Homo sapiens: one gene and its partners. The protein of the gene in region 3 purifies or fractionates together with the protein of the main gene of each other region. This does not show direct contact. Each region holds a gene or a part of one and is shown on either strand. Other genes may lie near its edges.

Evidence for each region. Proteins that work in one complex are often made in the same cells at the same time.
Region 1: the proteins of ECEL1 (region 3) and CLGN purify together in Homo sapiens (co-immunoprecipitation; 2 studies listed by BioGRID and IntAct, with this or other methods). This does not show direct contact.
Region 2: the proteins of ECEL1 (region 3) and ABHD12 purify together in Homo sapiens (co-immunoprecipitation; 2 studies listed by BioGRID and IntAct, with this or other methods). This does not show direct contact.

What each region holds. Positions count from the first base shown.
Region 1 is NC_000004.12:140,389,648-140,396,669, forward strand, and holds part of CLGN (calmegin precursor), read right to left. Parts: intron 6,559-7,022; coding exon 6,445-6,558; intron 6,323-6,444; coding exon 6,172-6,322; intron 4,395-6,171; coding exon 4,179-4,394; intron 3,065-4,178; coding exon 2,939-3,064; intron 2,732-2,938; coding exon 2,572-2,731; intron 1,082-2,571; coding exon 981-1,081; intron 1-980. UniProt on the Homo sapiens protein: Functions during spermatogenesis as a chaperone for a range of client proteins that are important for sperm adhesion onto the egg zona pellucida and for subsequent penetration of the zona pellucida.
Region 2 is NC_000020.11:25,387,835-25,395,105, reverse strand, and holds the start of ABHD12 (lysophosphatidylserine lipase ABHD12), read left to right. Parts: upstream 1-4,270; 5' UTR 4,271-4,402; coding exon 4,403-4,593; intron 4,594-7,271.
Region 3 is NC_000002.12:232,484,835-232,491,897, forward strand, and holds the start of ECEL1 (endothelin-converting enzyme-like 1), read right to left. Parts: upstream 3,001-7,063; 5' UTR 2,885-3,000; intron 1,921-2,884; 5' UTR 1,820-1,920; coding exon 1,034-1,819; intron 434-1,033; coding exon 365-433; intron 258-364; coding exon 147-257; intron 60-146; coding exon 1-59. UniProt on the Homo sapiens protein: May contribute to the degradation of peptide hormones and be involved in the inactivation of neuronal peptides.

The DNA of each region.
Region 1 (7,022 bases), on a different chromosome or scaffold from region 3:
ATTATTTAAAACTTGGCTCTGGAAGAAATTCTCTTCACCTAGCTCTCCCTAAATATGGATATTCATACTAAATAATGGTCCCAAAGTCCCTATAAAAACTCAGAGGGCAGGAAGACCAGCAAACAGTATGTGTACTGATTAAACATTAGGAAAGACTTAACAATAATTGCAAATTTATTTGGAGGATTTCTTTAAATAGATAAAATACAAAATTCATTTCATCACATGCAAGAGCAGGCAGAACTGTACTTTTATCCTACCTACATAGTTGGAATGTAATATGTTAGGATGGTGACTCTGTGGGGTAAGGCTACCCAGCTCTTTAAGGGCCAGAGAAAACTGGTTTTTGGTTTATGCTGGATTAAAAACAAAAAAGAAAAAAGACAGCTCTGGCTCTAATTATACTCGGGATTTCTCATTCCATAATAACTTACAAAAAAAAAGCATTGTGCAAAGTTCCATTTTATATCAGGACACAAAAAGGGGTAGACTAATAAGGGGGGAGAAAAGTTCACTAAAGATTTGAGAAAAATACCCTATCAGGCAGATAGTACTCAACTACCCAATGAATGAAATATTTTAAAACGTGAGAGTAAAATGTTGAGACAATAAAGATGTTTTACAACAGCTATAAAAATTATAATAATGATAATTATCTTTTAAATATTCAAACAATGTGTTTATTATGCTTTTCAATAGAATTTCAATGAGAAAGTCATAATTTTGGATACATGTATTCTATCTTTATATTTTGTACGCCACAGGCTTGCTCTATACTGTTTTACTAGGCATTGAGACAATATAAATTACAGTATTTTTCTTTCCTTCCTTATGGATATGTTTTAAAAACAATATAGAGGCTCTTATAAAAGCTGAGAGAAATATGGCAAAAATTCTTTCATAAATCATATTGGTGCTTTTATTGAAAAAACTTTTTATGGATAACAACTATACATAGAAACCAGCTTATTTTCTGTTACCTCATCCTCTGACCCAGACTTATTTGATTGATTACTTTCTTCTTGCCCTTCTATGATTTCAATTTCTTCTTCACTCTTTTCCTCAGGTTCACTTTCCTCTTCTAGAATACAGATTTTGTTAAAAGCAAAGACTCAATAAATTAGAATTTTGCTACTGAAAAGTATTAAATACAATAAATGGGATTTATTTAAATTCCAAGATTTATTCCAAGATTTAGAAGCAACTTCTTCCATTCAAAATTTTAAAAATTATAAATACTCATTATATTATCATATTTTATAAATGAATCATATTTGAGTTTGGGGACAAGTTTAAAAAATTCTTAAGCATTCAGTCTGTATGTAATATGAAAACCAAAAAATAATAATCTTTCCTGTGTTCCTGTCTTGGAAAATACTTCCTTTAATTTTTGGTGATCTTTTAATCTTCAATATGTTATTTACTTATGTTTGTTCTCTGTGGACATCATGCATTTTTTCAGTTATTGACCCTCCTTAGGATTCCATTTAGCAGAACCTCCAACTTTTGTCATCATTATTAACCAAAAGATATTAAGCACGTCCTAGGAGCTATATAAAGTAAAAACTCCTACCCTACCAAGAATGGGCTTTGGGGAAAGGGAAGTTGAAAAATCAACTCTACTTCTTCTACGTAGTTCCAATGTGGGACTACGTGTATAGATGAAAGTGGTGAAAGTACCTTTATACAAGCAGGCCCCTCCGATACTTAAATTCCCTCTAAATAAGGCTGATCCAGACATCAATATACTAAGCACTAAGAAGTTACAAAAACAAGGCTGGAAACTTACAACCTGAAACATTTGTTGTTTTAGATACCTATCCTAATACACACATGAACATGTGTATGTATATGTGTGTATATATATATATACTGTCTCTTAAAAAATAGATAGACACATATGTGTTTTTAAGTCAACTGTTTCATTAAGTGAGTTAAACACTGTGCTTCAAGACATTTGGCTTGGGACACTGGGCAAATCAATAGTTTTATTTCTACCTTATGTAAGGAGGTCTCAGCGGACAGCCACCAAAGGGTGACTTCAGTTCTAACATCTTCAAGAGTTTAACATAGGGTGAGAAGGGGATATAGGTTCAGCAATCCTTTCAGAAAATTAATTAAATTATTTCTTCTATATGATAAGCATCTGACTAACAATAGCTGTTGGAAGACTTGGTGTTGATTTTGTTGCTGCAATCATCTGTTTTATATCTATTCCTTTTCTACAGAGGCCATGATATACACCCTCTATCACCCTCCATCTCATCTTCTACACTCCCAGAGCCAAGAAACATCCTTGCAAAAAGCTATGGCCTATGGGATTCATTAACTGCTAGGCTCTCAAGCAACTGAACACTATTTAAATCTCCTTCTTCCTAGAATGCAAAAACTATAAACAGGGTGGCTGCTCAGAGGACTATTATTCCTTCTTGCCACAGTCACATATTCTTGGGAGATTCAGATGTATAAACTTGATAATAAACAAGTATAATAACTAGTTATTTCAAGGCCATATACAGTTTTATGAGCTTTACCCAGAGTCTCCATTATAAATCACTCTCATCATCTTACCTTTTTCAAGCATTTCACCATCATTTTGCTTTTTTTCCTCTTCCAGGTCCATTGGTTTTTCCAGGGCTGCTTTCTCTTCCTTTTCTTCTTGCTCTAGTACTCCTTTTGTTTGTGGTATACATATGTCGGTTTTTTTATACTCTGTATCTTTATGTTTTTTCTGTGGTAGTTAACATAAGTTATTTTTACTAAAGGCAGAGTGCTATTTTGAAAGTTTTTTTGCAATAATTGATAACATACATAATGAACTATCAGTAAAACTTATGAGACATTTAGTTTATTACTTTTAAGAATCGCTTAATTTATAGAACTCTTAAACAACAAGAAATTTGGGTGAAAAAAGTTGAAGGAAATCCATTTTCTTTACCTTTACTTTTCTTGGCCAACAAAATGAAGTAATTAATGCTATTGGCACTCCTGCTGTCACAAGATAAATCAACCAAAGCCATGGGTGCCCTTCAGCAGCTGCCATTAACTGTTTTAATACACCAGGCTATAGACGAGATAAGCATAAAAATGCAATTCAAATTTTACAAACCTTTACTGGGTAACACAAGATACAAAAAAACTTATTTACTCAGGCATTTTACATTAAGGAGTGATGAACTCGTAAGTAAAAGAAGTTTCATTTTCCCACCTTATACTTTGTAAAGTCTAATTTAATTATTAGCATGCATCACTGAGTGAGACTTGATAGCAGAAGGTATGTTATGACAAAAGTGGAAACTTCTAACATACTGGCAAGAAAAATGGTAATTTTCCTTTTTGGTAAATTTCAGAATAGAACTACCTTTTATGGATGTATTACCTGGTTTATTTGAAGTGATCATTCATTCTGTACTCTGATCATTCATTCTGTACTTTTAAAGAACTTACTAAAAATCATACCTCAGAATTGTTTTCTTTTTTATATAAACACATTTCACACATAAGACCCTCAGTAAGGATATTATTTCTCTTATTAAAATAAAATTTAAAAAATCAAATGTTTTAGTTACAAGAGGTTCAAAACAAGAATCCCTCTTCACCTACTCTTTTGATGGTTTTTCGCTAGTGACCCAAGGAACCAAATGTAAGGTAAGAATTTTTCTTTATAGCAACTGAATTTAATGATACATTTTCTAAGATGCATTGTGTTGAAATATTTAGCCCAACCTTTTCTAAACAGTGTTAAGGTTTCGGGAAAAAACTGGAACAGAATTTAATAATGTTAAACTATAAATTCTTTGTACATTCCTCTAAGTAAAAAATAGTTAAATAAACAGTAATATTTAGATTATCATTGTCACTTAGGTCTTGAACTGGCAAGATGACAAAGATATTAAGTAGTCTTCTTCTATGAACAGTAAATAAGCATTAAATCCCATTAGTGATGTTATAATTTAATGAATAAAATGAGGACTTACATATGCATATATAGCTCATAATGAAGTAACATAAAAAGCAAAATATTCTGTCTACATAAACTTATTCAAACACATTTCCTTGGCATTTAGTAGTTACTGCACATTTATTTGCATTTAAAAGAGCCATCTGAATAACCTACAACCAAGACCAAGTATTATTATTCATAGTTATATCACTACTGCTATTGGTCAACACCATACCTTATTAGCATTTGCTATCATTATTTTCCATCTCCAACCATCTGCAGCCCAGTGATCTGCTACTTCCTTTTCCGAACAGATAATAAAATTATCAAAGTAGATATCAGAGGTCATAGACCAAAGCTCTAAACCAAGAGCACTGAAAGAAGTCAGAAGAAATGGATGATCATCTTCGAAATAATCTGGATTAGGAATTTTTCGAGGACTCCAGATTCCCTGGAAGAAAAGTAATTGAAGACATTTTCAAATAAAATAACTTCATTATAAATGCTGCTTAATAAGTAGCTGCTGTTGAATGAAATTCGCAATGCTAACTGGAAAAAAGAGAATTTTAACTGATATTAATTCATTAGTAATATACTGGATATAAAATCTTGTTTCTTTTGCTGTGTACACAATGTTCCCTACGAGTGATACTAACTTTAAATTCTGCAAGAAAAGGAAAAGGGAAAATCCAACATAAACAGAAACGTGAATAAATTTCACAATTTGTCTACTTTGGACAAATTTTTAGATTTAGTAAAGTTATTCATTGCAAAATGTTATTCAAGTTGTCCAAATCAGAAAGATCATTGTATAGCAAAAATGGAGTTACTCCATTTAACATATACCCATGACAGATATCATTAATCAGGTATGGTTGAATCTCGGCACAACTACTCAACCTAAAACTTCCATTAGATCTTAAATGATTAAACTGTCCATTAAATCAAATACATTCAACAATATCATTGCTCACTGACTCACTCCACCATCACATGTATGTATTCTGGGCCAGGCACTATGCCAGATGATGGAGACATACATGGTTCCTGTATTATGGAGTTTAAAGTCAAATAAAAGAGACAGACATCAAACAAAAAAATTTACCAAAAGAAACATTTTGTGTTAAATGCTTTTAATAAAAACTACAGTGAGTAATTAGAATATGAAACTGCATATATATAATGTTAGAACGTATCCATAAATAATTACAAAGATAAAACTAGAGGGTTAAGTGGATAACATAGAAACTTTTAATATAAAAAGCTAGGTACACTCAAAAGATGTCGATTGATATCAGAAAAAAATCAGGGCTGGGTTCGGTGGCTTACTTCTGTAACCTGAGCACTTTGGGAGGCCAAGGTGGGCGGATCACGGTCAGGAGTTCGAGACCAGCCTGACCAACATGTGAAACCCCGTCTCCGCTAAAAATACAAAAGTTAGCCGGGCGTGCTGGGGTGTGCCTGTAATCTCAGCTACGTAGGAGGGTGAATCAGGAGAATCGCCTGAGCCCAGGAGGCAGAGGCTGCAGTGAGCCAAGATCACGCCAGGCCAGGTTTTTTGTTTTTTTGTTTTTTTGTTTTGAGTCTTGCTGTGTCGCCAGGCGGGAGTGCAGTGGCACGATCTCAGCTCACTGCGATCTCCACCTCCAGGGTCCAAGAGATTCCCCTGCCTCAGCCTCCTGAGTAGCTGGGACTACAGGCGTGCGCCACCACATCTGGCTAATTTTTTGTATTTTTAGTGGAGACAGGGTTTCACCATGTTGACCAGGGTGGTCTCCATCTCCTGACCTCGTGATCCGCCCGCCTTGGACTCCCAAAGTGCTGGGATTACAGGCATGAGCCACCGTACCTGGCCAAAAATCAGAATTTTAATAATACTAAATAATAAGTACATTAATTAAGCACAGGCATTAATTACTAAAATGTACAATATGAGTCTATTTGATCAAAATTCACTTCTTATATTTACTTCTAAAATAGAACTTTATTTCAAAGTGAGCATCAACTGATAATTAGGGAAGAATATAGTATGAAGTGATTTATTTCCCCAGAAAATTAAATAATTGATGCTCTACTTTTAAAATATAAATTAGTTGAGGTCTATTTTCTTTGACATCTTAAAATTAAAAATGAAACTTCCAAAAGTTGACATAGGTAATTAGATATTTAAATAGAAAAGATCACAACATTTTTAACTTCACTAAATAATTGGAACAAGCGGTTGTTACCTGATAGTTAGGATTATCGACCAGTGGAGGTCTCCATACTCCTTTGTATTTTGGGTTATCTATCATGGGAGGTTTCCACTCACCACACCCAATCCGACATGCTGGATTAAGAATCTGAGGTGCCTCCCATTCTCCATCCGTGTCTTCATTCCTTAGGATATTAAAACAAAGCAAATACAGTAACCTCAAGTCTCAGATCAGTCATATAAACTAGTAACAAAAATGCATGTAAGAAACATTTGAAATCGACATTTGAAGATGAAGAGTGCTTACCAGTCATCAGGTTTTTCAGCATTAGGATCAGGGATAAATTTTGGTTCATCATCAAGCCAGCCAGCAGGTTTAACAACACTTGAATCTTCTATTTGGGCAGGTTCACTTTCATCCCTGTAAATACAACGTTTTATATTACTAATTATTCAGAAAGTTTAAAAATGCATGTTACAACACTAAGAAGGTACCATAAAATTATTTCCCTCCCTTTTGTTTGTGCCTGTTATTTGTCCTCATCTACTACCCACCTAAATCTTTTGCTAACTTGCCAATTTTTGGTACATATTCCCTGTTGTGCTCTATGCATACATGCACACACGTATACATTCTTTTTTTTAATACGAATGATAGCATTCTATACATAATGTATTAGACCTTGCTTTTGTTACTTAAAAACTCAGTCATTCATCAACAAATATATATTGCATGCTTACTATGTGTCAAGACTGTTCGAGGAGCTCCATTATTATTATTTTTTTCTTGAGGTGGAGTCTTGTTCTTGTTTCCCAGGCTGGAGTGCAATAGTGCGACCTCAGCTCACTGCAACCTCTGCCTTCCGGGTTCAAGCAATTCTCCTG
Region 2 (7,271 bases), on a different chromosome or scaffold from region 3:
ATGTTAAAATCCACGGTCCTTTGGTTAGGAGAAAAAGTACAGAGCTTGCAGTTGCAGCATCAGTTGCATTGTCATTTTAACCACACTCATATTTGTGTAAACAACTAAGAATATAACCAAAGTGACTATCCATGGGACCTTGTGAAAGCCCATTTACAGGGAGCGTTCACATCCAACATCACCTTTGATATTGGTGAATTACAAAACAAAATTCTTGTTTTAAATAAGCAAACTCAAAAATTTCAACCTGCTTTAGAAGACTGGACCAAATTCCAGCAACGCCTGGCAAGCCTCAACCCTTGGACCTATCTAAAGCACCACATTAACAATTTATATGTAGTTCTTGGAATAATGTTGTTTTGTCTCTGTCTTCTGCTCATAGTCTGTAAAATCGGACGGACTGCCAATCAGAGAATGAGAGATGCCCAGCCTGGCCTTACATTCTTTCAATTAATACATAAACACAAAGGGAGAGATGTTGGGAGCCAAAAAGGCCAAAGGGATCATGATCAACTCAGCATTCCACTGGAGGCTATATGATCAAATAGCAAACTGTTTATCACTATCACGAATGCAGGATGTGAGCAAACTCACACTGCGCCTGCCACCAAAAGGTTGGCTGAGGGCCTCACTCCCTGGCACGGGGCTCCTTGAAGTTATCTACTGAGAAATCTAGTGTCTATTGTTCAAACGATGCAGTCTGGCAAGCCTGCTGTGAACCAACCAGCCGACTGACAATTACCCCACAATCACCCCCCATTTATCCCTATCTGTTTTGCCTAATAAATATGGAGGGCTGTGTAAAGCTCAGGGCCCTTGTCCACTAGAGGCAAGGTGCCCCCTGACCCCTTCTTCCAAACATACTCTTGTCTCTTGTCTTTTATTCTCACGTTCACCACCCTTTGTTGTTACCCTAAGTCCATGCAGGTTGCAAGTGGCACCCCTGATCAACGACAGAATCGGGTGCTCTACAGTCAGGGAGGGCCATGTTAAACCCTTTTGTAAGCCTTGGGTTTTGAGTGAGATGGGGAGCCACTTAGGTGTTGTGAGCAAATAAATGACAGAATTAGACCTTGTAACAACAAGAAAACCCTATGTGGCAGCTGAATTAAGTGGACAGAAGTGAGGCAAAGTGGAGGCAGGAGACCAGTTAGGCTATTCAAATAATGGAGGTGAGAGATAACAGCAGTTTGGCCCAGGGTGGGGACCATGGAGGCGGTAAAATTTAATGGTTAAATTCTCATAGATTTTGAAAGCACAGCTGACAAGGCTTGGTGATAGACATGCTATAGCACAAGAAAGGAGAAGTCAAGGATGACCCCAGAATTGTGGCCCCAGGAACTGCAATAGAATTACCAGAGAAGGTCATGGATGGAGTTGGGGGTGGGAGAAGAGTTGGGAGCTCAGCATTGAAGTGGTGCTTGTCAGAAATCAGAGCAGAAATGATGAGGAGCCTAAGGGTCAAGGAGAGGTGTGGACCAATGATAAAAATGTGGGCATCACTAGCATGGGCTCAACCACCAAGAGTTGAGCACTGTGTGGGCAGGGCCTCGTGCCTGTAAGAAAGATTCAATACACGGTACAGATTTTTCCTCTCCAGCTCTTCCTTCCTTGTTTTTTTTTTTTTTTTTTTTTGGTTTGTTTGTTTGGTTTTTTTGAGTCGGAGTCTCACTCTGTCGCCCAGGATGGAGTGCAGTGGTGCGATCTCCGCTCACTGCAAGCTCCGCCTCCCGGGTTCACGCCATTCTCCTGCTTCAGCCTCCCAAGTAGCTGGGACTACAGGCGCCCGCCACCATGCCCGGCTAATTTTTTATATTGTTATTAGAGAGACGGGGTGTGAAACCGTGTTAGCCAGGATGGTCATGATCTCCTGACCTTGTGATCCGCCCGCCTCGGCCTCCCAATGTGCTGGGATTACAGGCATGAGCCACCGCGCCTGGCTGTTTTTTTTTTGTTGTTGTTGTTTTTTTAATTGAAGTGAGCGATAGAGTCAAAACCTCTTTTTTTTTTTTTACGTTTTAGTTATTTCCTAGATTTCCAATCTCTCCAGGATGTGTTACTACATCACTATAAAGAATTTATAATTTACATTCCATAGTATGTTTGTTTGTTTATTTTGAGATGGAGTCCTGCTCTGTCACCCAGGCTAGAGTGCAGTGGTGCAATCTCGGCTCACTGCAACCTCCGAATCCCAGCATCCCGGGTTCAAGCAATTCTCCTGCCTCAGCCTCCCAAGTAGATGGGATTACAGGCGTGCGCCACCACACCCAGCTAATTTTTTTGTTTGTTTGTTTTTGAGAGGAGTCTCCCTCTGTCGCCAGGCTGGAGTGCAGTGGCACAATTTCGGCTCACCACAACCTCCGACTCCCTGGTTCAAGCGATTCTCCTGCCTCAGCTTCCCAAGTAGCTGGGAATACAGGCACGCGCCACCATGCCCAGCTAATTTTTTTTTTTTTTTTTGAGACAGAAGTTTGCTTTTGTCCCCAAGACTGGGGTGCAATGGTGTGATCTCAGCTCACTGCAACCTCCGCCTCCCAAGTTCAAGCGATTCTCCTGCCTCAGCCTCCCAATTAGCTGGGATTATAGGGTTGTGCCACCATACCTGGCTAATTTTTGTGTTTTTAGTAGAGACGGGGTTTCACTACATTGGCCAGGATAGCCTCAATCTCCTGACCTCGTGATCCGCCCGCCTCGGCCTCCCAAAGTGCTGGGCTCACAGGCGTGAGACACCTCGCCCAGCCTTTTTTTTTTTTTTTTTTTTAAACAGAGTCTTGCTCTGTCACCCAGGCTTGTGCCACCACACCCGGCTAATTTTTGTATTTTTAGTAGAGACGGAGTTTCACCATGCTGGCCAGGCTGATCTGGCCTCCATCTCCTGTGCTTAAATGATCCACCCACCTCCGCCTCCCAAAGTGCTGAGATTACAGGCATGAGCCACTGAGCTCGGCCCATAATGTTTTTAAAAAGTATATCTGGAGATATTGACACAATTATGAATGCAGGCTGTAACACTTAGTAATATGGTCAATAAATTATTTTGCAATTTCAAAGTATCATTACAAAACTAATTTAAAAAGCAGCCGGGCGCGGTGGCTCATGCCTGTAATCCCAGCACTTTGGGAGGCCGAGGCGGGCGGATCACGGGATCGAGAGATCGAGACCATCCTGGCTACACAGTGAAACCCTGTCTCTACTAAAAATACAAAAAAATTAGCCGGGCATGGTAGCCGGCGCCTGTAGTCCCAGCTACTTGGGAGGCTGAGGCAGGAGACTGGCGTGAACCTGGGAGGCGGAGTTTGCAGTGAGCCGAGATCGCGCCACTGCACTCCAGCCTGGGCGAGAGCGAGACTCCGTCTCAAAAAAAAAAAAAAAAAAAAAGAAAAAACTAATATAAAAAGCTGTTGAATTTCTAAACGCATTTCCAATTGACCTTTATCAATTGCCAATAGTTTTCAAAGTGACAAATGCTGAAATTTCTAACGTTACTTTGGAATAAGCAAATATCTCTCTTTGTTATAGATCATCTGTAAAACTAATGCCATATTGAAGAAAGCCAAAGTTATAAAACTAAATTTGTGAAACAGCCCTTTATTCTTTCCTTTTCTCTTTCTAGGATGGGTTGAATTAGTACTAAATTTGGGTTTCATAAGGGCGAATTTATCTTTGAAATGGATTTTCCTCCCATCAGGTAGTCTTAATTGCTTTATAAAAATCTAAAATCTAACACAGGTTTTTAAAAAGTAAATTTTTCAAGCAGTTCATTTCCTGATGTTCGGCCCAAAAGTAAACACTGAGTATATACATTTACTTCAAATTAAAAACTGACGACCGGAAAGCATACTTTTAAAGGTAATGTCCTTGTGGAAAAAGAATTAAGAATCACGAGAACGGAACTGCTATTTGCTACCTCTGGTTTTCCGTTCACAGAAGCACGAGGAGCCCAGCGCTGCGGCTCTGCCTCGCTGGGCCACCCCTTTCGGGCACGACCGGGAGCGGGTGCTCCTCACACCGAGCGCCCGGGCGAGCACAGCTGCAGCCTGCGGATGGAGCCCAGAGCCCTGCCCTGCAGATGACGCGCCGCTGCAGCTTCGCCCACCCTCCCACAAAATGGCTGCGGGTGGCGCCAGGGATGCTGGGCGCGCGCTCCTTGGAACTAGAGAGGAGGTGGCCGGGGCGGGGCCGGGGGAGGGGGGTAGGGCAGAGCCGGCGGGAGCCCGGCGCTGATTGGCCGGCCTGGCTGGCGGGCCCCCGCCGCTGGTTCGTAGCCGGCGCAGCGGCCTGGGCTGGGATGTGAGGAGCGGCGGGTTCCGGGCTCCGGGCTCTGGGTGGCGGCGGCTGTGAGCGGCGGCACTGCGGCGCAGGCCAGCGGGCGCCGTCGGCGGCTGGCCCTGTCGGCCGCGGGATGAGGAAGCGGACCGAGCCCGTCGCCTTGGAGCATGAGCGCTGCGCCGCCGCGGGCTCGTCCTCCTCCGGCTCGGCCGCCGCGGCGCTGGACGCCGACTGCCGCCTGAAGCAGAACCTACGCCTGACGGGCCCGGCGGCGGCTGAGCCGCGCTGCGCAGCCGACGCGGGAATGAAGCGGGCGCTGGGCAGGTGAGGCTTCGCGCGGAGCGGGGGGGGGGGGGGGGCCGGTCCCTCACTTTGCGCAGGTGCGTCCCGCAGGGGGCCGCGGTACCTCCCAGCCCCTCCCAGAGTGGCCGTCCGCCCGATCCGCGGCCGCCCCCGTCCGCGCCTGTGTCCCGCATTTGGCCCGCGGCAGCCCCACCCCCGCTCCCTTCCCCAGGCACCGCGGCGGGAGCGCCCTGCCCTGCCGCTGACCCCCTGTGTCCTGCTCCGGCCCTCTCGCCAGGCACTCCTGGCCTAGCCTTGCACCCCGACCCTTTCCCGGGGAAGCCGGGGGGACCCTTACGCTGGGGGCTTGGCGCCGCCCGAAGTCATGACCCCGCGTGGGAGAGCAGGGTAGGGGGTGGGGAGTCCTTGGAAGATCCCTGGACGCCAGGCACAGCAGAGGCGGGAGGCAGAGGGGCCGGCGCCAGACCCTGAGAGCGCTGGGGCCCACTCGGACCTCCTCCTCCTGCTCTGCATCAGGCCCCACACCGAGCGCCCGGGCGGGCGCCCCTCGGGCTGGGCTGCGTGCGCGGAGCCTTACTGGCGCCTTGGGCCCTCGGCGGCTCTCCCCGGTAACTAGGGTCGGGGGCGTGCGTCGCTCAGAACTCGGGGACCTTTGGGGAAGGGCTCAGTGGGCGGCGGGGTGCTAGGGGAAGGAGGGACTCGGAGCATCGCAGCCGTCGGAGGGAAACCTGCCCTTCGCTCTGCTGGTGATGGTTCGTGGTACTTGAAATCTGTCCGCACAAGTTCGCCTCCTTGGGAATCATCTCGCAGTCCTGAGTCGTTTGGTTATTGGCGTTCAATAACCTTTGGGTTATTGGGTAGAAGATGAATGCGTTTATATAAAGCCACTTTCAAAACTGAGATGGGAACGTGTTTCATAGGGACAGATTTCTCCTCCCATCTGCTGGTTTCCTAATTATCTGGCTGTTGTAGAACGTAGCATTCCTGACAGCTTTGAAGCCTTGCTACTTCGTGGTGGTTTGAAGAAGTTACTATATGATGATCTCAGGCGTTGTAGCAGAGGCACTTCTTTTTTGACCATCTGGAATGCCCTTAGTTGACGCTGGCCACTTGAGTGTAAAATATGCGTATCGCTCCTAAGGAAAAGTAGAATTTCAACTTCATTGCTTAAAAAAATCATGAAATTAAACTATAGACACTTCTAAGTCGATGGTTTGACAGAAGGGCGGAGACTGATAGTTTTGTGTCTTTATGTGTAAAATTATGTAGCATCTGATCAATATCTTTTGTGAAACTAATCTGTTCTCTTTGCTATGGAAAGATTTATCTGCATTAAAAACTCATGATTTAACTTTAATACAATTTTATTAACAGACATGGCATAACGCTTAGATAAATTGGAAAATTCTTCCTTCGAAAAAATCAAATTGCCGGGCGCGGTGGCTCACGCCTGTAATGCCAGCACTCTGGGAGACCGAGGCGGGCAGATTATCAGAGGTCAGGAGTTCGAGACCAGCTTGACCAACATGGAGAAACCCCGTCTGTACTAAAAATACAAAATTAGCCGGGCGTGGTGGCGCATATGCCTGTAATCCCAGCTACTCGGGAGGCTGAGGCGGGAGAATCGCTTGAATCTGGGAGGCGGAGGTTGCGGTGAGCCAAGATCTCGCCGAACCGAGATCGCACCAGTGCACTCCAGCCTGGACAACAAGAACGGAACTCCGTCTCAAAAAAAAAAAAAAAAAAGAAAAAATCAAATTGTTTTACACAACGTTTGGGGAAACAGCGGCGACCTGGCACCTTCTTGAAGAATGTACTGTATTAAAATTACCCGATTAATTTTTATTTTCGTGTCAGGACAAAGAGAGACATTCCAGTGGTGTCCATATCCTTTGGATAAGCAAAAGGCTGTTAGGGGTAAAAAGCAAAACAAAGGGAAAGAAGACCAAATTTGTTAGGTTGTCTTCCTTCCCAGCTGGCTGTCTCAGACATCCTTGAGCTTTCTTCTCTTCCTCGCTCAGGCTCTGCGCCACCATCACCTCCTCCTCACTGAGGCCTTCTTAGACCAGCCCACTCCTGTCGACCTTGTTATCACTCGAGATTGTAATTTTTGCTCGTGTGCCTCCCCCGCAACCAGAATGGAAGCGCCATGAGAACAGGAGCTTTGTTTTCTCCACTTAAGTATCTCCAGTACCTGGCACGTAGTAGGTAGCAGAAAATACTTGTTGAATGAACAAATATCCATAGAACAGATATCCATTGCGCCACAGAGCCGGCTCGTTTGTGTCTTTTATGATCCTTCTTTGGATCCTTCCGCACATTTTTTAAACTCTTTATTGTCGACATACGTGGAAGTAGAGAAGACAATCTAATGAGCCTTCTTCATGTGTCCATCACTTAAAAGTTTTCAGTGTTTAGCCAATTTTGAATCATCCATCCCTCTTCTCTTTTTTTTTGTAGGATGAAGGATTGGATTTTTTTTTTTTTTTTTTTTTGAGAAGGAGTCTCGCTTTGTCGCCCAGGCTGGAGTGCAGTGGCAATCTCGGCTCACTGCAACCTCCACCTCCCAGGTTCAAGCAATTCTCCTGCCCCAGCCTCCTGAGTAGCTGGGATTACAGGCGCCCGTCACCGTGCCTGGCTAACTTTTGTAGTTTTAGTAGAGACGGGGTTTCACCATGTTGGCCAGGCTGGTCTCGAAC
Region 3 (7,063 bases):
ACCTTGTTGTACATGGAGCTGACATCTCGCCGTAGGTCGTCATGCTCTGACACAGTGATCTGTGGGGAGAGATCACAGCTGACCCAGCCCTGCTCCATGATGCCCTCCCTCAAGCCCAGGGCAGCCTCCAGTCCTGGTCTGCTCACGTTGGCCAGCTGCTGCTCCACTTGCAGGATCTCTTGGGCCTTCTGTTCCACAGCGTCTGCACCCAGGAGGCTGAGCACTCGCTCCATGAACACCCTGTATGCTGCCAGGATCTGCACCAGGGGAGGGGGCTCACCCAGGGACAGGGACAGGCCTAGCCTGGATCCACCCCTCCTGGGGCCCCAGGCCTTCCCTGCCTCCCCATCCCATGCCCCAGCACCTTCTCACTGTCCTCATCCTGAGCGAGGTACAGGGTCCTCTCTGGCAGGGTGAGCCCATCCTGGTCAATCTGGGGAGGGAGACAGGGGCCACAGGTCAGAGGCCCACACCTCAGGTTCCCTAAACAGAGGGAATTCCCACTCCAATGCCCAGAGAGCAACCAGACATCCATGAGTACAGCCACAGAAGCACGCAGACCCCAGCTCCTCTTTCCACCCAGACGAGATGGCCAAAGCCCCATCCCTGACTGTCCCAGCCTGCGGATGCCCAATCTTACCCCTGTACGTCTGCACTTTCCTTATCTGTCCGGGGCATTCGTAGGTCCCCCACTGACAGTTGGGACCCCTAGCTTTGGGGCCAGCTCCAGACCTCGCGGAGACGTCAACCCAGCCCGCCGGCGCGCCTCTCCCTCCTGGCCCTCACTGCCTGCCAGAGGGCTGGGAAATTGCGGCTCCCGCGGCTCCTCTAAACACCGCAATTACCCCAGGGAAATTACTTGCGCCCTCCTCCCGCGCTCTGCCTCTGTGCGCTCCCCTCCCCTCCCCTCTCCTGCTCGTCTCTTCCCTCCTCTCCTCTCACGCACCCGCCTCCCGCGCGCAGGGACCCCTGGGCAAGGCCACTGCGCCCCGGATCCGCGGCCGCTGGCAGGGCGCTCAGGGGGCGCACTCACGCGGATGACGTAGCGCGAGGAGTTCCTGTCGTCCAGGCTGACCGTGAGCGAGAAGAGCGCGGCGGCGCTGTACACGCCCTGCGCCTTGTACAGCAGCCGGTTGAGGTCCCATCGCGCCGCGACCCCCGGACGCTCCTCCGCGCCGCCCAGGTCCCAGCCCCCGCAGTCCTCGATGACCTCTAGCATGGGTCGCGGGCCCAGTCGCTCGATCTCGCGCATGTCGAGGCACGAGCGGAAGAAGGCGCGCACCTTGCGCTGGGCCGCGCCGCCAGGCCCACCCCCGGGCCGCGCCAGCAGGCGCCGTAGGCGCTCCTCGTTTTGCTCGCCGATGGCCGCGATGGTGCCATAGGTGAGCTTGTCGTCGGGGATGGCGTGGCGCCGCAGCCAACCGCCGCAGGCGAACGAGTAGAAGTCCTGGCATGGGTCGATGCTGGCGTCCAGGTTGGCGGCCAGGAAGCGAGCGGCGCGCGCGAAGGCCTTGCGCTCAGGGCAGCCCTCGGGACAGGCGCCGCCGCCGGCCGCGACCGGGCCCAGGTACTTGAGGGCCAGCATAGCCGCCAGAATGGCGCAGAGGCCGGCGGCGAACACCAGCCCCGACAGCAGGCACACCTCGCGCCGGTTCCAGCGCGGCAGCCCGGACCGGGCCCCGGTGGCGCTGCGCGCAGCGCCCAACGGGAAGCCCGGGGGCAGGGAGGCCCCGCGCGCGCCCCCCGCGCCGCAGCGGCTCACGTACTTGACCTCTTGGAACTCATCGTAGTGCGCCGTCAGCGAATACGGGGGCTCCATGGCGCCGAGGCCGCCGCGGTGCAGACCTGGGCCACCTGGGCTACGGGATGCGCGTGGCCGCCGGCCTCCTCGTGGGCCTCCGCATGGCCCTGGGGCCGCAGCTGCGGGAAGGGCGGAAGCAGGCTCAGGAGGCGCCGCAGCCGGATGGGGCTCAGGGTCACCGCGAGGAGGGACACAGGCCTGGGTGCAGAGGCCCCAGCCGCGGGCCTCATTCACTGCGGAAACCAGGGACTATGAGGGTTCGGCGGGGCCACCACCCCCGGGTGCACAGTGGAGTCTTCCCCCCTGTCCCCTCCCTGCACACACTTGAGGGCCGCAGGGTTGGGAGGGCTCTTATTGGAAGCAAGAGGCGCCAGGCAAGGGGCCTGGCACGTAGTGGGCCTTCATTGAAAGGTCGTCCCTCTTCCCCTTCGCCTTTCTCTTCCACGACCTGCCCCAGCCAAGGCCGGGTGGAGTGGGGGAAGAAGCGGAGGCTGGAGTGAGGAGGTGCGGTCAGGGGCGCGTCTATGCGACACTTTCAGCTCTCCGCGCTGGACCCAGACAGACGCTCCGCAAAGCGGCCAAAGAACCAAACTTTGTCCTCGCGGAAGTCCGCGGGATCGACCACGCCAACCCCGCTCCCTGGCTCCTTCTGCTCGGTGGCCCGACGGCCCACTCGCCCCTTCCCTAGGGGCGCGCGCCAACGCCCCAGGGTGGCGGACACACAACCCACCCACTGGACGGCCCTGATGGAGAACCCGAGACGGGTTCCCTCCCCCCACTCCCACCATCTCTGTCCCCGCCCCGAGCCACTCCTGGCTTCAACAGGTTCTCCCCAGAACCCAAACTTGGGCGAAGTTTCACCCCCGGCGGGGAGCGAGCTGGCTGGCGACCCCCGAGCCCCGGCGCCGTGCGGCGCAGTCCGCGGAGCCCGAGAGCCGAGCCCGGGAGCCGCAGCCGCAGCCGCAGCCGGAGCCGCAGCCGAGAGGACGCAGACAAAGCCGGGAGGCTCCGCGCAGTGGCGGCGGCGGCGACGGAAGTGGCCGCGGTGGTGGCCTCAGCGGCAGGGACTCGGGCGCCACTTACCCGGCAGGTGCGCGCCCGAGCCGGCGGTGACCGAGCGGGTCGGGCCCGAGCGGGGGCCTGAGCCGCAGCGCAGCCGAGCGGGCGTCCGGTGTCTCCCAGCGCCCGCCGCCTCCTCTGCCGCCGCGCCGAGCCCGCCGCGCCGCCCGCCTGCCGGCCCGAGGGAGGGGGCGCGCCGGCGGCTCCACCCTCCTCCGCCCGCCCCGCGCGCCCCTCCTTCCTCCTGCATCTCTCGGGCCACCTGGCAGTGGGGCGGCAGCGCGGACGTGGGTCGGCGGCCGCGGAGACAGGCTCCCGGGGGTCGTGCGCGGGCTGCGGTCGGGGACTCCGGGTCCAGCCGCGTTCCGAGACGAGTGAGGGCAGCGAGTACTCCCGTGAAGGGTCCCCTCCGATCCAGTGTCCCCACTCCCAGCCGCCCACCAGCCGGCTGGAAAGGGGCTGGAGCTGGAGATGAGGAGCCGAGGACTCCTCCGAAGGGCTGGGGGCGGTGTCAGTAGTGCCTGTGTCTGCCGGCACAGTCCCTGGCGCAGAGCGCACCTTCACTAACCGGCTTTTTTGTCCTCCTTGGAACCCCTGCCCTGGATGGGCTCTCCACTAGGGCTTCTGGTTGGCCTCGCTCCCTTCACCTAGCCCCTGGTGAAGGGAGCTCAGCGGGGACTCCTGCAAGAAGAGGGCTTGCCGCCCCCTTCCCCATCCTCCCCAGCCTTGGGTGGCCCTGGCACCACGGCTCAGGGAGTCCCTGGCCCAGGTAGGAAGAAAAGGCCAAGAGAAGAATGAGCGAAGTCTCCCTGCTGGAGCCAGGGAAGGCTGGAGCCTGCCCCCTCTGGCCAGCAGCCCTAGGCCTCAGACAGGCCCTGAGCCTCAAGACCCTGGTATGTGGACTGATGGGAGGGCAGGCTGGGTGCAGGGACTCTGAATTTACTCACCGCCTGCCTTCTTCCAGGTAAACTGGCTTTTTAAATGTGGGGCCTCCCCACTGCCTGGAGGCAAAGCCCTCTTCTACCTGCCTGCCTGCCTTGGCCAGACAGCCTGGCCCTAATGGGACACAGAGAACTTGGGGCTCCTTGGAAGACTGATACTGTTTCTGGAGTCTCTGCTTTCTCTGCCCTACCCTGCCTCTGGTGTCTCTAGCAGGAGACCCCACAAAGCACCAGCCCTCCCAGGTCTGCCGGCTCCAGCCCGTAGGATTGGCTTAAACAATGTGTGAGAGCCATGGAGCACCATCTAATAAAAATCACAACAAGGTAGGGACTCTGATAACCTACCCATCATCCTGTTCTCCTCCTCAGGGTCTGTGCATCTGCCCAGCTCCTGAGCCCTGGCCCTGAGTGCCGGCCTCTGCCCCTGTCTTGCCTCTCCCTGCCTCTTCATCTCTCCATCTCTAAGCCCCCACTCCGGATACCCTGCCTCCATCTCTGGCCACCCCAGGGTTGTCCTCTGCCCCATGCATCCTTCTTGGGTCCTATTAATTCTAAAGAGGAAAAATGGAATTACTTATAATGTGGCGATTCCATGAAGGGGGGAGGGGAGGGCAGGGAGGTGGCAAAGTGGCTCTTTGTGCTTTTAATCTGCATTTTTCCCTCAATGTTCCCGTCTCCAGGAGGATAATTTTCCAGCCTTTTCAGGCCCTGATTGGTATCATTTCTCCAGCAAGGACAGCTTTTATTTTCCCCGAAATGAATGCCATGAAATTTCCAAGAAATGTAAAAATGGATATTGTCTCAGAGAGCCTCTTCCGACAGAAAGGCACAGAGGCAAACACGCTTCCCTAGGGACTCTTCTGCTCCAGTCCCGGGGGTGGGGTGGGGGGCAGCCCCCAGGCCCTCAGTCTCTCCTCCCTCCTTTTGCCCTCCCTCATCCCTTCCTCCTCCCTCCCGGGTCAGCTCTGGGACCCCCCTTCCAGCCACCCTCTCCCAGACTCAGCTGCTATTGGTCTGCTCATGGGCCTCCCGACTCCCTGCCGGGCGACCTGCCTGGCTCCACCTCACCTTTTCTTTTCACATCGCATCCCCCAGCCCCGGGCTGAGAGCAGCAACCAGGGCCTACAGGAGTTGACTTGGAATTGGGCCCTCTGACCCCTCAGTCCTGGCCACCCCACACAGACTGCCAATAAAGAGAAGTCAGAGGCCCACCTCCTTGACTCTCCGGCACCTTCTCTGTAAGGGAAGCTGGCACTGTAGGGGAGTAGGCACCAGTGGTCTGGCCTGTAGCTTGCTCACTCTTTTGGGGGATCTCTTCCTACCCCTAATTACCAAGATGACCCCATGACTCATGAGAAAGAGAATGACAGGCCACAGTGGTGCCCAGCTAAACCCAGCCAAGCCCTGAGTGAGGCAGCTGGGTGCCCAGCTTCAGGGAGCAGTTGGGTGCTGCCAGAGCTGCCTTGGAGAGAAAAGGCCCGAGGGGATGCAAGGGGGCAGAGATGAGGGGTTCAGAACCTGACTCTCTGTCTCCTCCTTGACCAAGGGTAGATCCCAGCAACTCTGCCGAACAGGGCATCACTTGGTTTGGGTTCTGGACATAGAGCCCTCCCTGAGGACAGTGTGCTGTCACCAGTAGCTTGCATCTGTTGCACGTTCACCATGTGGGCTGCTAAGTGCCCTGCTCTGAGGTGGGGCTGCCCACCTAACGCCGGGCCTGGTCCTGACTGGAGCCCATTTGTGGTCGGACCCGCCTCTCTCCTGCGGCCTGCACGTGGGTGGGGATGAACCCCTTGCCCTGCCTCGGTGTGCTGCAGCAGGGTGTCAGCTCCAGGACGAGCCCCGCCAGCCTCCACCCTGTCCAACCAGGCCCTACTCCTCCCCTGCAGATCTGTGGTATCTTCTGAGCCCTAAAAACACGCCTCCAGCCAGCTTCCTGTCCTCCACCCGGCCTCTCGGGGCTCATCCCATCTATTATTCACAGCACAAAATGGATTTTTAATTTGAGAAATGAAATGACTCTCCCAAGTGGCCGGGGTGGCAGGGAGGGGGTGGAGGAAGGCCGGAGCCGCCGTGGCCGCCACAGCCGCCACGGTGCTGACTCAGGTTCATCTTGGAAAGCTCGGGGCCCACAGCCGAACTGAGAGACCCCAAAGGCCCAGTACCCCACCACTCTGCCCCAGGCCTCCACTCCTCCCCATTGCTGTGACCAGGTGGGGTGACGGGTGCCCGTTGGTCCTGCCTGAGCCTCCAGTGGGGCCTACCTCTGGCAGGGCGGTCGGGGGGACAGCTGGATCTGTCCTCCACTGGCTTTCAGATTCCTGTGCCTCAAGGGCAGCCCTTGGGCTCCCTGGCCTGGCCTATCACCTCCCCACACCCCCCGGCCCTCCTGGCCTGGCTTCCTCCACCCTGTCCAGACCTCTGGCTGAGCTCCTTTGCTAGGTCCTGACCCCACACTAGGCCCACTCCGGCCTCGACTGCTGGCACTGGCCTCCGCTGCTGGACACCTGGCCTCCACTCCGGCCTCCACGGCAGAACCCCTCCTCACCCCTCACGGGGGAGCTCAGGCATCTTAGTGTGGCCCACAAGGCAGGGCCTCCTCCTGGCTCTTCTCTGTCTTTGTCCCTCTCTGCCTCCCCACCCCCATACCTCCCTCTTTCCTCTGGTTACTCTGATCTATTTCCATTTCCCAGAACATGGCTGGCTCTGTCATCCCTCAGGCCTTAGCACTTGCTGTTTCAGCTGCCTGGAACACCCTTCCCCCGTCCCCTCTTACGGTGGCCAATTGCCAACCATCCTTCAGGGCCACCTGGAAGTGGCCTCTCCCATCTGGTCAGGTGCTGCCTCCACAGGCCCCTACTCCACCGGATGCAAAGTCTCTCCTATGGCAGCCCCTGTTCTTCCCCTCCAGGTAGCCCGCGGCCCCTTCTGGAGCCCAGGACAGGGGACGCATATGATAAACTCAGGTGACGTCCGTGATCAGTTCATGGAGATGCCCTGCCTGAAGCATCTCTCAGCGCCAAGCCATACACCAGGCACAGCACCCAGGCAAACCTGCCCAGGCTCTCAGATCCTGAACACCTTTCCTTTGCTCTGGAACCCACCAGATGACAAAGTGGGGGCCACTTTTCCACCCTCCTGCACCCCTCCTCTCCACTCTGAACCCCGTGGTAGGCTTTGTCCTCGCCATGCATAGACTCCTCTTGGGGTCACCTCCCAACCTCTGGAGCAATGTTGTTTTTGTACAAGAAACATGTAAATA